Linked DNA regions of Homo sapiens. The protein of the gene in region 1 interacts with the protein of each later gene in a biochemical or structural test. Each region holds a gene or a part of one and is shown in the gene's direction. Other genes may lie near its edges.

What was found.
Region 2: the proteins of EDIL3 (region 1) and POLI form a complex in vitro, tested with the Homo sapiens proteins (one study listed by BioGRID).

Annotation. Positions count from the first base shown.
Region 1 is NC_000005.10:84,105,263-84,109,016, reverse strand, and holds part of EDIL3 (EGF-like repeat and discoidin I-like domain-containing protein 3 isoform 1 precursor), read left to right. Parts: intron 1-2,186; coding exon 2,187-2,368; intron 2,369-3,754. UniProt on the Homo sapiens protein: Promotes adhesion of endothelial cells through interaction with the alpha-v/beta-3 integrin receptor. Inhibits formation of vascular-like structures. May be involved in regulation of vascular morphogenesis of remodeling in embryonic development.
Region 2 is NC_000018.10:54,272,382-54,276,135, forward strand, and holds part of POLI (DNA polymerase iota isoform a (long)), read left to right. Parts: intron 1-1,544; coding exon 1,545-1,709; intron 1,710-3,754. UniProt on the Homo sapiens protein: Error-prone DNA polymerase specifically involved in DNA repair. Plays an important role in translesion synthesis, where the normal high-fidelity DNA polymerases cannot proceed and DNA synthesis stalls. Favors Hoogsteen base-pairing in the active site.

The DNA of each region.
Region 1 (3,754 bases):
GAATTATAGGATATTGTGATTTGAGATCTACTCTCTGCTTTAAAATAGTTACAAATTCTGTGAAGATATCTAATTCAGCATAAGGTCTTTAGAGGTATACAACTAAATGGCACAGAGTTATTTTTAAGTCTGCCATACAGCTCATTAATCAATTCTGGCTCTCTAGCTCTGCTAGTCTACTTACTGGCCTACAATAAATGGCCTGCAATAAAAGATCTCCCTGCCTGTTTCATTTTTCCATCCAAACATTGTACAAACTAAGGACAAGATGCTTGAGACCCCTTTGATGACAATATTATTAAAAAGCTAGGCTCCTGCCATTACTAAAGTCACAGTGTCATCATGAAAGTTTCTTAGTACGTTTATGAAGTCTGTAAAGATCTTGAAGTTTAAAATGGAAAGCAAAATAAGGGTCCAAAGAATTAATATCTGAACTTTTAACGTTAAGTTTTTGGGAATGTGAAAATCAGATTATCATCTGCAGCTCGTAAGACTTCAATTCTACTAATGAATGGCTTCTTAATTTAATGATTCTAAAGTGATATAGTATACTTTCATAAAGTGCTAAGCAGTCCTAATTACATGTTAAAAAAAGATCTTATTATCTAAATTTATCATACCAAGTAATTTTTTGTCAATGGCAAAGATGCAATTTTTACTGTATTAATGTTGTCTTTACTAATACAGTCTGATTAAGATGATTACTTATCCATATATTTTTATCTTCTTTATAAAAAAATTTAAAAATTTGAAAGCCATCAGAGCTACTTACCATGTTTATGACAATTAAAAATATGGTTAACAGTGAGAAATATCTTACTAAGTTTCAAAAATATTATAATTTGGCTCCTAATATTTTTTCTTATTTTCAACCTCAATCTAAGTGTAAACATTTAATTACTGACAAATGTTGGATTTTGACAGTAATTAAAATCTAAAATGTACTTGGTCATAATCACCAATCAAGTTGACTTTCATATACTGATATTTAGTAGTAGCAATGAACTTCTTTCTTATTTTCATAAATTCTGATAAATTATTGTAGTATATTTTTATAATACAATTATCGTATATATTATACAAATCTAAATTGGCAAAATATTCAGTATAGTATATGAAATGTTAATGAAATTAAGAACATCTTTTCCTTATATCATATCCCTACTTATTCTGAATTTTCAAAACTGAATTTAAAAGAAATGTACCTTCTGCTGAAATTTTATAACGCAATTAAGAATTTATATATAATTTTATATATAATACAAATATATATGTAATTTTTTAAGGATGGATTTATCTCCATTTCTAATTTGAAAAACTAAATACATTTGGTATCTGAGAACATATCATTTGAGCATAATGTGTTTTAATCTTAGTATTTTAAAATTTCATTGGAAAATTTTCTTAAGTTTCTCAGTTGCAAATGTGAAGATATACATGCAGAATCCCAATATGTAGAATTGTGAATTTGAAACTAAAGTGCTAATAAGTATTTTAATATCTTGATTTACTGAGTTGTACACATTGTCATGTATAATGTTGTCAGAGAGTTTACCTGCTCTCTTTATAAAAATAATTTGTCTACATATATTTTATAATTTATAATATATCATGGGGTATTATAATAATATTTTTAAATGTTAACAGATTTACCCATTTCCCTTTTGTTGTGGAAGCATAACTGATGGTGGGTATAAAAATTTAAGTTATAAAGTTTATAGTAGTGAGAAATGCTAAATTAGTACAAAAATAACTTTGAAAAAAAGCTCAGCTTTATGATAATAAAGAAATAATGGATGGAAAAATATTTGTTGAGAGCTTATAATTTGTGAGGCATGCTAATCTCCGGGAATATAAAATATGAGATAAGCCTTTTAAGAGCATTATGCTTTTGTTGACGTGATCAACAACCAGAAGCTATCAGTACAGAACCAGAATCATAATGCAGAAGGGAAGTGTCTATTAAGTGACTACTTTCAAAGCAAAGAAGGAAGAGAGGGTCATGAGAAGCAAGAATTATTTCCTTAATTTAGAGATCGATAACAGATCTGTAAAGGGGATGAAGAGTAAATAGCATGGTGGTGCAAATTCAAATCATTTAAAAAAATCCTATCAAATCGAACAGACACATGTTGTATATGCATTGTTTCTAATACATTCATATTTTTTCCTGTTTTTGTTTCCAGAATGCTCAGGCCCACTGGGAATTGAAGGTGGAATTATATCAAACCAGCAAATCACAGCTTCCTCTACTCACCGAGCTCTTTTTGGACTCCAAAAATGGTATCCCTACTATGCACGTCTTAATAAGAAGGGGCTTATAAATGCGTGGACAGCTGCAGAAAATGACAGATGGCCGTGGATTCAGGTAACAGATGGGATGGGACAAGGTTAATGTTATAAGTCATTTTTAAATGATTCTGGTCATTTTAAAAAGCAGACAAAAGGGAACTCAGTGTGACTCTTCCTTATGGTCAGAGGAAAGGGTAATTTAGTGAAGAGTTCAAATTAGCTCCCAATTCTGAGAAGTAAAAAACATGCACATTCCATTAAGAAGTTAGTTAAAGAGATCAAAAACGTTAAAAATATTCAGGTATAAATATCACTGTTTTAAGGTGCATATCAAAGCAGGAGACTTTCTGTATACTGTGTGTTCATTACCACTGTGATAACGTTTAGCAGCAACTTATGATACTTTAAGAACATAAAAATTATATCAATGTTTTCTATCTCTAAGAAGTGGGTCCACAAATGCAAGTATAAAATATACCATGCATCATAATAACAATACCTCAAATGCACCTTCTTTCAAGCTGAGGGTGTTTCATTTCATAGTGTTATTCACTCTCATCAACCAGCTATTTTTTAAAACAGGAGAAAACAACAATATACTGAAATATTAAGTGATTTCCCAGAGGGGGTAGCAAGGCCCAGAGCTTATATTTCTGTACATTTCAATGCTTTTTGAGCATTTAGATGAACTATGTACTAGGAGTACAGAAAGATGATCAAAACTGATGTCTGTGAAAGAGTAAACCTCTGTTGGGGAAAGCACATTAATAACCATCTAACAAGTCATTGATGTGTACTAAAGGGAGGAAGAATTCAGTATTCTGTGGTCAGAGGAAGAATTCATTAATTATCTTGAGAAACTCACCTGGGGCAGATAGCTTTTGAGCTAGGCCTGAGAAGGATGGCTTTCAGTAGAGACTGAACATCCAGGGAACAGCCTGATTAAAGATGCTACATGACAATCTGGGGAATATTGTAGAAAATCATGACTAGAGTAAAGGTTGCTGGAGGGATGTGTTCAAATTCATTGTACGAGTTTGCTGTGCTTCGGGAGTCATACTAAAAGGTATTAGCCTTATTTCAGTAGAGTAGGGAGATATTGCAGAGTTTTGATTAGTTTAGGTGATTGATCTGTTCTATCTGTTTACTACGTATTCTAAGTCAAAGAAACATGGAAATCCCTGATGTGACATAATTAGGTGTACTATACAAGAACTAGTTTACAGGCATTTGGTATAAACGAAAATTGATTTATGGCTAAGAGGCAAGACTTCCATACTTGAAAAACTGGGCCAAAATCTCCTTCAGATACTTTCTTTGTTCAGATTTCTTAGGCATTCTTATATGTCTCATAAACATTTCTTTTATCTATAGAGCTCTAATAAGGTTGCCTGAAGTTCTTGTTTTGTATTATGAATTTATATTTACATGAAGTTGTTAAAATTGCTTCTTAAGTTACACT
Region 2 (3,754 bases), on another chromosome or scaffold:
TGTAATTAAGTACGAATGAATGATTATTGGGAAGTGAGGGATATGAATGCTCCATGTTTTTGGGGGAAAACGAAAGTAGTCTTTCATTTTGTTTTTGTTGTTGTTGTTGAGAAGGGGTCTCACTCTGTAGCCCAAGCTGCAGTGCAGTGGTGCGATCTTGGCTTACTGCAAGCTTTGCCTCTGGGGCTCAGGTGATTCTCCTGCCTCAGCCTTCCAAGTAGCTGGGACTAGAGGTGTGCGCCACCATACTCGGTTAATTTTTTTGTATTTTTAGTAGAGACGGTTTCACCATGTTGCCCTGGGTGGTCTCGTATGCTTGAATTCAGGCGATCCACCTGCCTTGGCCTCCCAAAGTGCGGGGACTACAGACGTGAGCCACCGTGCCCGACCAGTAGTGACATGCAGTGATGAGGCCATATAATGTAATGCTCTATTAAAGGACTCCTTTTTTTAGTTAAGAAATCTAGCAATCTGATTTTTTATGTAGTTCACTGAGGAATCTCAAATTATTATTACCTTTGGTTCCATGATTATATTTTTGGGCATTACCTGATATATGAAAAAACTTTATATAAAAATAATGTTGTTTATGATATCAAAATTTTAGAAACAATGTCTAATAGAGAAGTGGACATAACCTTTTTTTTCTACATGTTTGTATTTTACATATTTTAGGTGAACATTACTCTTACAGTGGTAAGCAAGTAGTCAACTTGTATAAAAAAAGAGCAAATAATTTTTAGCAATCTTGAGTCACCAATAAACTAGAATTTTTTATGCAGTCTGTAAATAAATGATCATAATTTAATCATTTTTGATAGAACAGTTCAATAAGTAGTACATAACTGTTAGATCCCTAAAAATTGCTGTAGCCCAGCACTTGTTTTATATATTTTATATACATATTATATTTTATATTGCTTTATATTAGCAAGTTACGGAGAAGAGAAGTTGAGTTTTTCTAGCAGCAACCAGTATTTAGTTGTACTCAATTATTTTCATCCGTTTTTTTTTTTTTTGGTAGAACATGCCCTATTATATGGCAGTATAAATTAATCTGCTTTTATATTGTCTGGAAAAAAATCCTAGAGAGATTTGATTTGTATCTTATCACTGAAGATTCCATAGAATATATTGATTTAGGTTCATTTTTAAATTTTAGAAATGTAATACATAGATTGCCTTTTGTATATGAATAATTGATCTATCGTCTAACTTTTAATTCTGTGTTATTCAGTGTTTTGTTATTTAATAATAACTTTCCTTCTTCAAGGAGACAAAACAACTAGAGATTAAAAGTGGGGTATGGAAAAATAATACATTGGTATATTATAATTCATAATTAGGAGATAGCTTGAAAACCTAATGTTTCTGCATTATAGAGATTTGATATATGGAGGCTATGTTTTTTAATTGAGACAGGGCTTTTGATTCTTATCAAAACTGATTGTCTTACAATTTAGACAAATGTAATACGGAATTAATAATATCTTTAAATGTTTTCTTCAATTGTGCTTGGGTTTCTCATAAAATATTTTTTACAGGGGTTCAACAGAAATATTTGGTGGTTACCTGCAACTATGAAGCTAGGAAACTTGGAGTTAAGAAACTTATGAATGTCAGAGATGCAAAAGAAAAGTGTCCACAGTTGGTATTAGTTAATGGAGAAGACCTGACCCGCTACAGAGAAATGTCTTATAAGGTTACAGGTACAAATGATAAGCAATGTACTTTTAGCATTAATTTTTATGTAGGATGCCTGTTCATTACATGAATTTTTTAATAAATGTAAAATAACATAAGTCAAGATGCTTTTTCCTAATAACTTCTTATTTTGGGTCTTGTCAACTTTAAAAATTATGTGAAAGGATAACTGTATGCTATGAATAGTATTTTTAAGAAGATGTATAGTTGGAAGTAATTTTAACTCTTATTATTGATGTTTATATAACAGGGAAAAGTGGAAAACAAAGTTTAAAAGTGAGAAAATGGGAAACTGTACTGTAAAAGATGCCAGGTCTTTAAAATTTTAAGTTTAAATGAATTACGAAGAAATATGTTGTTTTCTAATGCACTAATGATAATTGAAAGAGGCTTCTGTAACATTTGATCAACATAATTAAAAACTGATTTCTTATGAAATATTAATAAAAATATTGGATATATTAATATTTTCTTAGGTTTTATATATATACTAAATATTACAATGTAGCTAAACTTTCCTATGCTAAGGTTTGGGTTTAAATCTTAGTGTTATAGTAAATTACAGGAAAAATGAAAATGAGTGTGCACTGGCACATTGCAAATATAGTAGGTTGATGCAAAAGTAATTGTGGCTTTCACAATTACTTTTAATTGCGAAAACCGCAATTACTTAATATATAGTGTAAAAATGTATAATGATCAGCTTTGCAATTATTTGTCTTTTTTACTTTTTTTGTTTTTCTTTTATGATAGCAATTTTCAGATGACTGGATTAAATGTCTATAATATACAAAGACCTCTTAGAAATTAACAGGAAAAATAAACCTAATAACAAAGGACAAAGGATATGAATAGGCAGTTGACAAGAAGAGCCTAACCCAGTGTCTAACAATTATAGGGAAAAAATGCTCAAATTCATTAGTGGCCAAGGAAATTTGAATTAGTAAGATATTTTATATCTGTCATACTTGCCCAAAATTAAAAGCAATGTGAGAAAAAAGTATCAAGAACACTTACTGAGTTTAAAGATGAATGTTCTTCAATCCAGTGATATCATTGCTGGGAGTTTATCAAATAGAAATAAAATCATAAGGCTGGGTATTGTGGCTCATACCTGTAATCCCAGCACTTTTGGAGCTGAGGTAGGAGGATTGCTTGAGCCTAGAAGCTCGAGGCTGTGAGCCGTGATTGTGTCATTGCATTGCAGCCTGAGTGCGCATGACAGAGTGAGACTCTTGTCTCTAAAAAAGAAAGAGAACCACAAGTACATAAAGACATATGTACAACAATGTTTATCATAGCATGGTTTATGATTGTCAAAAGTATGGAAGGAAAAATGCCCATCAAGAGAAATAGCCAAATAAACTAAAACATCTGTATAATGGATATTATATAGCCATTAAAAAGAATTCATTGGTGCAATACTATTTGACTGATGGAGATAGGGCTTGTTGAGTGAATAAAAGGCAAGGTACAAAGTCATGTATCATGTTTTTCCAAATGTGTAAAATTATGGCCTAAATGCCTCCTCTCATATTCATCATATAGATGAAGAAGAGTAAATCATTGTTTTGATTTGCAGTTTTCCATGAGTAAGGTTGAGTATTTTTTCATATATTTTTGGTCATTTATGTATTTTTTTCTGTTAACGTATTCACTTGCACCTGTTTTTAATTTGGGTTGTTCATCTTTTTCTAAGTACTAAGTACCTAGTACTTTTTGTGTTAGGTATTTTTTGAAAAAAGTTACTTTATCAATTTTTCTCACAGTATTTTTCTGAGTTGAAGTAGGCGCGTAGCCAGTTAGTCCTTTACTGTATTTATCTCTGATCTGTTTATAACCTTATTATTTATTTCATATTTTGATGCTACTGCATATATACCTTTCTTCAAGGTATTTTTTTTTTCTGTAATTACAGACTCCTCTTTTGGGCCCTATATAATTATATGTTTAATAAATGTATCTTGCTTATGAAGTTGATACCAAGAAAGAGGTTAACTTCAGGAATGGAGGCTGGGCATGGTGGCTTATGCCTGTAATCCCAACACTT